Linked DNA regions of Homo sapiens. The protein of the gene in region 3 interacts with the protein of the main gene of each other region in a pairwise test. Each region holds a gene or a part of one and is shown on either strand. Other genes may lie near its edges.

What was found.
Region 1: the proteins of SHC3 (region 3) and CT55 interact in binary tests that used the Homo sapiens proteins (3 or more experiments, as listed by UniProt).
Region 2: the proteins of SHC3 (region 3) and BMF interact in binary tests that used the Homo sapiens proteins (3 or more experiments, as listed by UniProt).

The regions. Positions count from the first base shown.
Region 1 is NC_000023.11:135,157,654-135,161,405, forward strand, and holds part of CT55 (cancer/testis antigen 55), read right to left. Parts: intron 2,903-3,752; coding exon 2,758-2,902; intron 659-2,757; coding exon 546-658; intron 1-545. UniProt on the Homo sapiens protein: Plays a role in spermatogenesis, possibly acting in the regulation of the autophagy pathway.
Region 2 is NC_000015.10:40,106,879-40,110,630, forward strand, and holds the start of BMF (bcl-2-modifying factor), read right to left. Parts: upstream 2,002-3,752; 5' UTR 1,895-2,001; exon of another isoform or gene 1,746-1,894; intron 1,509-1,745; 5' UTR 1,381-1,508; intron 89-1,380; exon of another isoform or gene 1-88. UniProt on the Homo sapiens protein: May play a role in apoptosis. Isoform 1 seems to be the main initiator.
Region 3 is NC_000009.12:89,046,155-89,049,906, reverse strand, and holds part of SHC3 (SHC-transforming protein 3), read left to right. Parts: intron 1-2,912; coding exon 2,913-3,063; intron 3,064-3,752. UniProt on the Homo sapiens protein: Signaling adapter that couples activated growth factor receptors to signaling pathway in neurons. Involved in the signal transduction pathways of neurotrophin-activated Trk receptors in cortical neurons.

The DNA.
Region 1 (3,752 bases), on a different chromosome or scaffold from region 3:
GGGGTGCTTTGTAAGGATACCCATGTCCACGCTCCACCTCAGACCAATTAAATCAGACTCTCTGGGAATGAGGCCTGGGTCTCTGATGAGAAATCCTGCTCTAAATATTACCAAAATATGTCCATTACCCTCTGTTGCCTTGAATTGCCTGTGCATATTCAGGCTTTAATAACCAAATCATTCTTAGCATCTACTGGTCAGCTCAAGTCCCACAACACACTCCGTTCATTCTTTCCCTATAGTTTTCTGGCACAAAGATTGTTTTTCTTCCTCCTGTCCTTGGAAGATTCTAATAACATTTGGGTATCGAGTAAAATGCACAATTTAGAACTTAATCATGTGCTTGTTCTATATAATTTTCTAATTATTTCCTTTGGAAAATTCTGCCTTTTCAATAAGAAAAGTGGCTCCTTTGTTGGCAAAGAATGTATTTCTTCATATTTTCTGGAATTCCCATTATACCCAACAGAATCCTGGTCACGTAAATTATCACCAAAGGAAGAGTTAGCAGAAACTGCTGACGGGAGCAACAGGAAAGAAATTACCTCTTCCGTATGAATACAACGGATGGGCTTCACAGAAGTTGCCTTGATGTTTGAGATGCCTGGCTCAGTGGAATATTCAACTTCTAACAAGTCACCCTTATAAGGCACAAAATCTAAAACAGCCATGGAGAAATGTGAGTGTCATGATCTCTTAACTAGGTCACTTTTAATTTCACATGTTATTTGATAGTGTACTACTTTAAAGTCAGTTCTGCTAAATCTAAAGTCCATTTTGTGCATATTTAAACAGACACTACAAATCTCTAAGTCCAAAAAGAAGTTTATAATCCTTAGGCATTGATTCTCCTCTACTGATTTAACAAATTTAAATGGAGGAAAGTGTGAAGCATGCATCACAGCCAATATGAGGGAGCAGCACAGGATTTACTAAACAACTGTTAGTGTTCACAATTGCTTAGTGAGAGGCAGTCAAACATATAGGTAAGAGCACAAGTTTGAACCTGGCTATGTGGCTTCGAATCTTGACACTGCCACTCACTCAGTTGGCAACCTTAGCCAAGGTGGTTAATCTGTCTGTGCCTCGATTTCTTCATCTATAAAATGAGAAGCACAGTAAGTAGCCTTCATGGTACACAGCTGCCTTGAGAATTAGTTGATATGTGTGATACGCACAGAATCATCGCTGGCGCATAGCAACCACCAAATAACTGTTGATTGGTAGTAGTGGTAGCAGTACCGCTAGGAAATGTTGTTACTTTCAGAATGAATCAATTTCCCCTGGTGTTGTGTTCAACTAATGAACTCTTAAGTATGTGCCTTACAGGTTACAGTTAAGACCATCAAGTTTCAAACAGAAGTTTGCAATAAGTTAAAAGTGAGTCACAGGATAACAAAGTTACGTGAAAGAATCTGGAGCAAGTGGAAATCCCAACTGCAACTGAGACAGTAAATTGCCACAATGAAAACTAGTGATATCAACAAAGTTAAACATTTCTTCACCTTAGGACCCAACACTGTAGAATGACATAAGACACTGTGTTAGACCTGTTCTCTCTCTCTCTCTCTCTCTCTCTCTCTCTCTCTGATAATTTACATACATTTCTTTTGTGTGGATTTGACATATATCTATATGCTTATAACTCCAAAATGTATATGCCTCCAGTTCTAACCAACCTCAGGGTCAATTATCCATATGCTTACACCAATCTAACGTGTGTAAAGCTGAGTTGTTGGTATTCTCCATATTCACCAACTTTTGTTTGCCTCAGTCGTCTACATCACAAACTGGCAACTCCACTCTCACAACTGCTCAAATCAAAAACTTTGGAGGTACCTTAGACTCATTTTCCCTCCACAACAAAGATCTAATCCATTACCTCCTGGGTTCTTCTCTCACTTCAAAATATATCCAGAGTCAACTCAATCCTCAGGTTTTCCACTTCTCCATTTTCATTCACATCTCCATCATCTCTCACCAGGAATATTACAACGTTTTCCTGACTGATTTCCTGACTCCACCCTTCCCCTCATAGTCTCTTCTCAACAAAGCAGACAGAGTCAGCATCGTCAAACAAAATGCAGGTCAGAATCCTGCTTTTGCACCCAAGAAAACAAACTAGCAAGCTGCCTGGGGAAGCGGAGCTAATCTCTCCATTTATACCCAAGCTATACGACAGCTGCAGTAGACAAAACAGACAAAAAAATATCGTTGGGTAGAAGCTAAATATTAGAATATATCTGCCGATTACAAAGAGAATTCAACAACAACACACACACACACACACACACACACAAACAGACAACCACAAGGCGCTATCTCCAATCCTAAGTTTGAAGCATTTGAAGTGTATTCTTTTAAAATTTGGTAGTCTACCTTGTCACAGAAACTTCTCTAGTAACCAACTACAGAAATGATGCCTGCAAGTATAGTCTTTGAAGGGTATTAAAAATAGTGTCTCTATGCACTTGTAGGATTGTTTTCTTGATTAGAAATTAAATTCTCATATGAATGAATAGTATATCCAGGCATTACTGAGGGCATTGAACAAATGAACACACAATAACCAACAGCACACAATTTATAATACTGTCTATTTGCCCCTATACTGTACTTAATTTCGATTGGAACAGTCTACCTCTAACACTGAAGAGCCATTGACTGAAGCCAAGTACACTGTAAAAGTTGTTCCAGGACTAAAATCCTCTCAAAAAATTAAGAATTACATCATATATTTCAAAATATAAATCATACCTTCAGAAACAATGGCTATGGAAAAATAAATGCTGTTACTAATATAAATATTATCTTCATTTATAGAAGTAACACATCCAATTAAAACTCTGGTTCCTGAGTCTGAGGGTCCAGCACCATAAAGATGGCGAGGCACAACATCCACCTGTAAGATTTAGGAAAGAGTTTACTTCAAAAACAATACAAATTTAAACATGGAACTTACATGATTAAAAGACTTGTATTCAAAAATATTTTCAACAGCCATCCTAAACACTGGAGAATATAGTTCACTTGGTAAGTGGACCATTGACTTGAGATGACAGTAAAAGTCATGTGCGTGCTTCAAGAATTGTGAAATGTATCCCAAAACATTAATTGCATACCCAAGTTTAATGTCCTTGTACCATTAGATTCCAAGATTAAAATAATACCGTCCTTCGCCTGCAGAAATTCACAGTGAAATGACGGTAAAGTGGAAAGGTATATAGTCATAAGCAGGTTGCGATGAAGGATATAAAACTAGTTCAAAGATGGTTTCTGTGAATTATCTAGAGGGAGAACATTTCAGACAGGGAGAAAATAGAAGCATTGTTTAGGGGAAGTCAGATTTGTGCTGGGTTGGGAAAGAAGACGGGGTAAAGGAGCAGGGAGGCAGAGAGAAAAAACAACAGAAGTTAGGAGCCTAGGGAGCAAAACCCTAACATCCGAGATCCAGGCCTAGGAGACAGAAGCATGAGATAAAGTTGGAGCAATAACCTCAACTGGGGGAGGTTCGAAAAACCAAGTCAAATTAGGGCTTTACTTTATCTACAATAGAGAGGCATACAAACCTTTTCCCTTGTTGGAAGTGTAATAGTCCTTATTTTATAATCCTTAAAACTTACAAAAATAGTGTAAGCTTGTTATACTAAAAGTAGGAAAGAAAACAGATAAGCAGACAGCAAAAAGCAGTTACCCCACAATCCATAATTCATTACCAAGAGATCACCAGGGACTACATTTTTGGCAGTAAC
Region 2 (3,752 bases), on a different chromosome or scaffold from region 3:
AAGTCTCCTCACTAGTCTCCACGACTTCAAATCCCTGATTCCACAGCCTCCCGCTCCTGCCAGCTCTGAACCTGAGACTGGTACAACTGGTCTTACAGAAGGAAGTGAAATTCAGCCCTCTCCCTGTGACCTCACTCACTGCCTATACTGCTGAAGTTATTGATATGAGTTTCTTGGTGATAAAGAAGTTCCTCTTGCTCCACCTGATGGCTCTTGAAAGTCTGAGCTTGGAGCTACTCAGCATCTTAAGCTTCCAACCCAGCTCCCTACACATACCAGGAACTGCTTAGGGCCCCTGCAGCAGCCAGAAGCAGCAACCACCTGAACAGCTAAGGATAAAAAGAGATGAATTTCATTCTTGTCAGACTCAATTAGAGATTCCTGGGGGTTCTGTCCCCTAGTCTCTTGCCTTTGAAGAACAAGCCAAATGGTCTATGGATTGGTGAAGTAGCTAAAAGAATCTCAGTTCAATTCAGAATGCTGCCTTTGCCAAACACAAGCTGTGAGCTGCTTGCTTGGGCCCTGCCTTCGTCCCATCCCATCCCTGTCCCTGAGCTGTCTATGGTCCTGTCTGTGCCCTCTTCCCTGGAGAATGAGGAGATGCCTGCTAGGATGGCAAGCAGCCACGTGGTGTTCTTTGGACCGTGTTTCCCAAGTGTGTGTGTGTGTGTGTGTGTGTGTGTGTGTGTGTGTGTGTATGGGGAGGGGGGTGAGGTGGTGCACTCCAGCTTATTAACAACAGGAAACAAAATTTCCTGATGAAAGGACCAAGTGCTGTCCCGCCAGTCACCTGGCAGGGGCTCCCCTCCAGCTCTCCAACCTCCTCTTCTCAGGCTAGCAATCTTGACCTAAGAAGGGGCCCTCAAAGCCAATCACCAGCACGAGTCATTGTCTTGGTTTTTCCTTTGAAGCCTATCACCTTCCCCTCCCCCTCCCAGCAAAGCCCCAAAGTTCAACCTTTGCCTGGACTGGACAGTGGGGGAGGTGCAGCCAGAAGGTGTGGCTCTGCAAGCCCCAGGGACCCCTCTCACGCTCCACAAACTGTAGGTGGCTTGCCTGTAGGTGGGCGCCTCTGGAGGGGTGCTGGCCAAGGTCAAGGGTAAACTAAGAGAGGGTGAAATTTTTCTCCTGAGCTTAAGAGGTGATGTCCAGAGCGGTGGGAGGAGGAGGGCACTTCCTGAGAACAGGGCCAGGGAATGCTTTATTCCTAGCAAAGGAACTCAAGCCCCGCTGCAGCCATCCCAACCCCTAAGGGCTGGAAGAGGGATGCTGAACTTAGACTCCTCCTCCTCTTAGGAGAAGGCAGTAGTCAGACACCCAGATCCTCGACAGTGACTAGGAACACACACACACACACACACACACACACACACCCCAGACCTGGGTGACTCCAGGAGAGAGTCTCGGCCTCCGAGTCGTGATGCCAGGGCTCCGCGCCAGGGTCCAGCGTGACGAGCACTCGGGGGCTGGACGCCCAGACTCGATTGGGAAGGAGGGAAAAAGCCCAGCTGTTAAGGAGAGGAGCCTTCAGACTCCGCAGAGAGGCAGGATGCCCCACAGCTCCTGTCCTATCCCAAAGTCAGACCCAGAGGCTGGGCCGTTCTCGGGCGCCCAGGTCTGCTCAGCAGTGCACCCCAGGTTCCCCTGCCTACCTGGACCCAACTCCTTCGAGTCCCAAATGCTACCCCCAAGTTCCCTCTTGGAGCAGCGCACCCAACTGTGGGTTCTGCACCCCGTTCCCTCACCCCAGCGCCCCAGTTCTTCATGGTCACCCCAGACGTCCGCAGCCCAAACCCTTCCCGGGCCCCCGTGCGCAGCGCGACTCCGCTCCCCACTTCCCCAAGGAGCTGCGATCCAACTCCGCCCGGCCCCCGGCGGCCACCCGGGCGCTCACCGGGCTGCGGCAGGAGGCGGGAGGCGCAGGCAGGGGCGGCGGCGGCGGCGGGCACAGGCCGGGGCGGGAGGAGGCCACTCCGCACGGTGCGGTATTGTTTCCAAAATACGCCTGCTCGGGGCATCCCGCAAACAGCTGATGAGGCCCCGCCCCCCTGCGCGTCACGCCGAGGACTGACCAATGGCGAGTGAAGCGCCAAGTCCCGGGCTGGGCCGCTGCCAGGGACGGTCACGAATGTACGAACCTTCCCATGGAAACATTGCAAGGGGCCGAGCAAAATTCCGACCGTCGCCAGAAGCGCAGTCGGAGCGCCGTCGCCAGTGCGGATTCTGTCCCTAACACAGGCTCTGGAAGCGCCAGAGAGTCCCTGAATCCTCTGTATTAGGTGTGGGAGAGGGGGCGCCAAAGTAACTTTTGTCTTCTTTTTCACGGCAATGGGCAGAATAATTGCTGCGCGTCCACAAAGGGAGGGGGGAAGGAGGCGGGGAGTTTTTTTATGAGGCTGGTGCGTCCAGTGGGTGCAGGGTGCAGGGTGCGGGTCCCTATGGGATCCCAGCCTCAGGGGAAAGCTCCCTCCCGCCTGCCGAGCAGGTCGGAAGAAAACTGCAGCTCCAAAGCTGAAGGTGTGTTTGAAACAAACACATCCAGGGGAGCCCTTAGGTCCTCTTCTTGACTGGGCGTGGGCACTGGCAAAATAAGCACCTGGCTGAGAAGCGGAGCGCTCAAGAAGGCCGGGGCTGCTTGAGCGGTTGACACATATCTCGCATATGGCAGCATTTAGAGACTGTGCTGGTGCTGCCAGGAGAGCAGCATGTCCTGCAGACCGCGTAAGGGAGTCTATGGGCTACTTCACAGGCATTTACCGAGCACCTACTCTGTGCCAGATATTGGGCTGAGTGCCAGAAACCTGGCGTCTGCCCTCAAGGAGCTTACAGTCTACTAGGAGAGGTAGCCCTGAAAATAGTGAAAAGTTATTGGAATTGTATTCATTCCAAGGATAATGACTATTGAGGAATGCAGAAAAATTCAGAATACAAAGGCTGGAGAAGGCCTCAGGGAGACAGCTTTTAAATTGAATGGGAAATATTTTTCAATAAGGAAAACCAGATGCACATGTCTCACGCCTGTAATCCCAACACTTTGGGAGGCCGAGGCGGGTGGTTCACTTGAGCTCAGTGGTTGGAGACCAGCCTGGCCAACACGGGAAACCCTGTCTCTACTAAAAATACAAAAATCAGGCGGGCGTGGTGGCGCATGCCTGTAATCCCAGCTACTTGGGAGGCTGAGGTAGGAGAATTGCTTGAACCTAGGAGGTGAAGGTTGCAGTGGGCGGAGATAGCGCCACCGCACTCCAGCCTGGGCGACAATGAGACTCCGTCTCAAAAAAATAAAAATAAAATAAAATAAAAAAGAATAGCCCAGGCCTAAGGGTAGCAGACTGAAGTGCTGAGCTGGAGAGCTTACCTGTGCAGGGAGCAGAGGGAGGCTTGGTGACTGGATCATTGGGTGCACACTGAGATTTACGAACGGTAGGCATGGGCAGGTGGGTTCAGGTCAGACTACAGAGGTGTCCCTGGAATGCCAGACTGAAGAATCTGTATTTTATAAAGGGGAGGCAGCAAAGATTTTATTGGAGATGAGTGACTTGACCAAGCCTGAGTTTTAGGAAAGATAAAATGATGAGTCCAGAGAGCAGTGAGAGGGAGCCAGTCCTGCAACAACCCTGACCCACCAGGGGCAGTAGGGCTCAGCAGTGCTCTGACCACCGAGCTGCTCTCTGGGTTGTAAACTTAGATTTAAGTTCAGTGGAGCTGGGACCTTCAGCCCAATAGAGCCTGAAGTCTCCTTGTACCTTTTT
Region 3 (3,752 bases):
AGCCACGTAGTGGAAGAAGATTTATGGAGAGAAAAAGGAAAATGACTTACAGAAAATGGAAGTGAGGTTCAGAAATAGCTGGATTGGTTACAGCTCGGCGTTTGCCTTATTTGAACACAGTTGGAACAGTTGGCCGCATTTGATTGGCCAAAACTCGGTGATTGGCACAAGAGTAGGCTACAGTCTGTTTACACCTCCACTTGTATAGTTCAGGATTTACAGAGAAACCTTTAGGCCAAATTTAAATACGTAAGGAGGTAGCTTTAGGCTAAACTTGATTTAACATAATAGATCAAAAGGTTAACACTTATTTAATCTCCATGGGGGATGCATAAGTATATTTCATATTAATTATTATGCTAGCCTTTGTTTCTGAAATGTTGAATAAAAGCCAAATAAATGCTATTAAGATAATACACACAAAAATGAATGGAGGGAGTTAGTTTAACTACCATACTTCTCTGGCAGTGTACATAATGTATGAAGTTCTGTATGTGTTTGTATGTAGTGAAGTTTGAAGGACTTTTGGGGAAAGAAAATGTAGTAGACAGGATCTTATCCACTGAGAAAAATGTCGCCTCCAAATGCAAGTATTGGCATATCATTTCTGGTTTTGTTTTGTTTTGTTTTGTTTTGTTTTGTTTTTAAGAGGGAGTCTGGCTCTGTCACTCAGGCTGGAGTGCAGTGGCGCGATCTTGGCTCACTGCAAGCTCCACCTACCGGGTTCGCGCCATTCTCCTGCCTCAGCCTCCTGAGTAGCTGGGACTACAGGCGCCTGCCACCACGCCCGGCTAATTTTTTGTATTTTTAGTAGAGATGGGATTTCACCGTGTTAGCCAGGATGGTATCGATCTCCTGACCTCGTGATCCGCCCCTCTCGGCCTCCCAAAGTGCTGGGATTACAGGCGTAAATCACCGTGCCCGGCCGGCATATCATTTCTAAAGCAGAGCAGTGACAAGGGGCCCTGCCTGTAGCTTCATACTGTCGGTGACCTGACACCCCCCTCACCTTATCCTGCAGAGGCTCCTGGTGTCCCGCAGGGTACTATCCGAGAGCGGGGTGACGGGGATCTCCTGAGCTTGCCCTGCCTTCCGTTTCAGCTCCGCTCCTCCAGCAGGGTGCAGCCTGGGAACATGAGAGAACCCACACTGCATCCAGCTGTTCCAGCCCCATTCTCTGGGGACACTGAAAAACAAATCAGATGCCACTAAGACTCCATTTATTATTATTTTTAAAATTGATAATTCATATATAATCAAATTGCTCTTTTAAAGTTTACAGTTCAGTTGATTTGTTATATTCAAAAGTACAATTATCACCATTAATTCCAGAACGTTTTCATTACCCCCCAAAGAAACTCTATACTCATCAGCAATTACTCCCCATTCTCCACTCCCCACTCTTCCACCAACCACTAATCTACTTTCTGTCTCTATGGATTTGCCCATTCTGGACATTTCATATAAATGGAATCATACTGTATGTATCTGGCTTCTTTCACTTAGAAGAATGTTTTCAAGATTCACTCATGTTGTAGGATCTGTCAGTATTTCTTTCATTTTAGAGTTCTTAATAATATTTGAGTGTATAGGTATATGACCTTTTGTTCATCCAGTCATTAGTTTATGGACAGTTGGGTACTTCTACCTTTTTTTTTTTTTTTTAATGGAGTCTTACTCCATTGCCCAGGCTGGAATGCAGTGGCACGATCTCAGCTCACTGCAACATCCACCTCCCGGGTTCAAGCAATTCTCTCGTCTCAGCCTCCCGAGTAGCTGGAACTACAGGTGTGTGCCACCACGCCTGGCTAATTTTTGTATTTTTAGTAGAGACAGGGTTTCACCATATTGCTCAGGCTGGTCTTGAACTCCTGACCTCATGATCTGCCCGCCTTGGCCTCCCAAAATGCTGGGATTACAGGCATCAGCCACTGCGCCCGGCCCTACCTTTTAGCTCTTATGAACAATGCTACTGTAAAGATGTATACAAGTTTCCTTATGGACATATGTTTCAATATTCTTATGTATATACCTGGGAGTGAAATTCTGTGGTCATATGGTTATGCTGAAACTGCAAAGCTATTTTCTAAAGTGGCTGCACCATTTTACAGTCCCATGAGCAATGTGTGAGGGTTCTAATATCCCCACGTTCTTATCAACACTTTTTCTTGTCCATCTCTTTGATTATAGCTACCCTAGTGGGCATGAAGTGGTCTCTGGTTGTGGTTTTGATATGCATTTTCCTGATGACTAACGATGTTGAGGAACTTTTCATGCATGTATTGGCTTTTTGTGTATCTCTGGAGAAAAGTCTGCTCAAATCCTCAGCTCATTTTTAAGATCGGGTTGTCTTTTCATTGTTGAGTCGTACGAGTACTTTATATATTCTAGATACATGTCTCATTTAAGATACATGTTAGCAAATATTTTCTCCCATTTTGTAGTTTGTATTTTTACTTTCTTGATAATGTCCTTTGAAGCACAACAGTTTTTTCAAATAGCAGAAGGGAGAATTTTGAGAGGTTCATATTCTACCATTTTCCCTCATATCACTAAATTTCCATTTTGTAGTTGGTTTTGTTTGGGATCAATTTCATGGCTTACAAAAATGTGTGCTGTCCCTTGAGGAGCTGGCTATCCTTAGGCATAATTTCTTTTTTAATTAAAATGTACTTTTACAAAAGGACATCCTTCAAACATGATTGAAATGTTCCAATGAGTGAAACTCTGAATATGGCAGAGATATTTTGCTAAACCACTCATCTGCTTTTCATCTATGCATGAGACCTGGATGGCTGAGGAGGCACTGACTAAACTCTCTTTTCTTAATAACAGGCGCTAACATTAGATTTGTTGATTTTGGCTGCAAGTTCAACTTTTGGCTAAAGCCCTTGGAAATCTTCCTTTAACAGAATGCAGAGTCTGGATGAGCCATGGACGGAAGAGGAGGGAGATGGCTCAGACCACCCATACTACAACAGCATCCCAAGCAAGATGCCTCCTCCAGGGGGCTTTCTTGATACTAGACTGAAACCCAGACCCCATGCTCCTGACACAGCCCAGGTAAGTCTTATAGTTTTTTTCTTATATAAGGAATGGAGGCTAACTCTACTTTATTTCCTTTTGTTTTCTTTGGTTTTATTTCAGGCTGATGTTCTGTTTCATTTTTGACACAGTAAATCATGAGCTTTCTCTCACTGGATTTCATGAGGCATGCAGATGAAGAGAGGCTTTGGGTTAACATCATAAAGCATTGGCCAAATGCTTTGGAACTGTGTGGTGATTCCTGGGATATGAGTCTGGGGGTGTCCTCTGTACCCTCAGACATATTCCATCATACTGTGATCTCAGTGAGGGAAAGAGAGAATTTAAGATTTTAAAAAGGCTTGGGAGGCATTGGGTTCTCTGAAAAGGAGTGAATATAGACGCTTAAAATGATGAGAATTTTATGAGTTTTCTATTTTATTCATTCCCTTGTTTTATGTCCAACTCAAAATTCTAGTAAGGCAATTGCTTTCTAGAGTTATGATATTTCTGTTTTGTTATAGGAAATTTTTTAACGTTACTACCTTATGTGAATGATAATGACACCACTAAAAATGGCAAAATAACGTTGAGCTCAGGGATCTGACACTGAGAGGGAATTTCCTGATTTTTTGAAGGAAATTTCCTGGTTTACAGAGTGGACTTGACCAAGTGTGAACGATCATGGGCGTATGTGTTATGTGGGAAGTGTGTTCTGACACATAGAT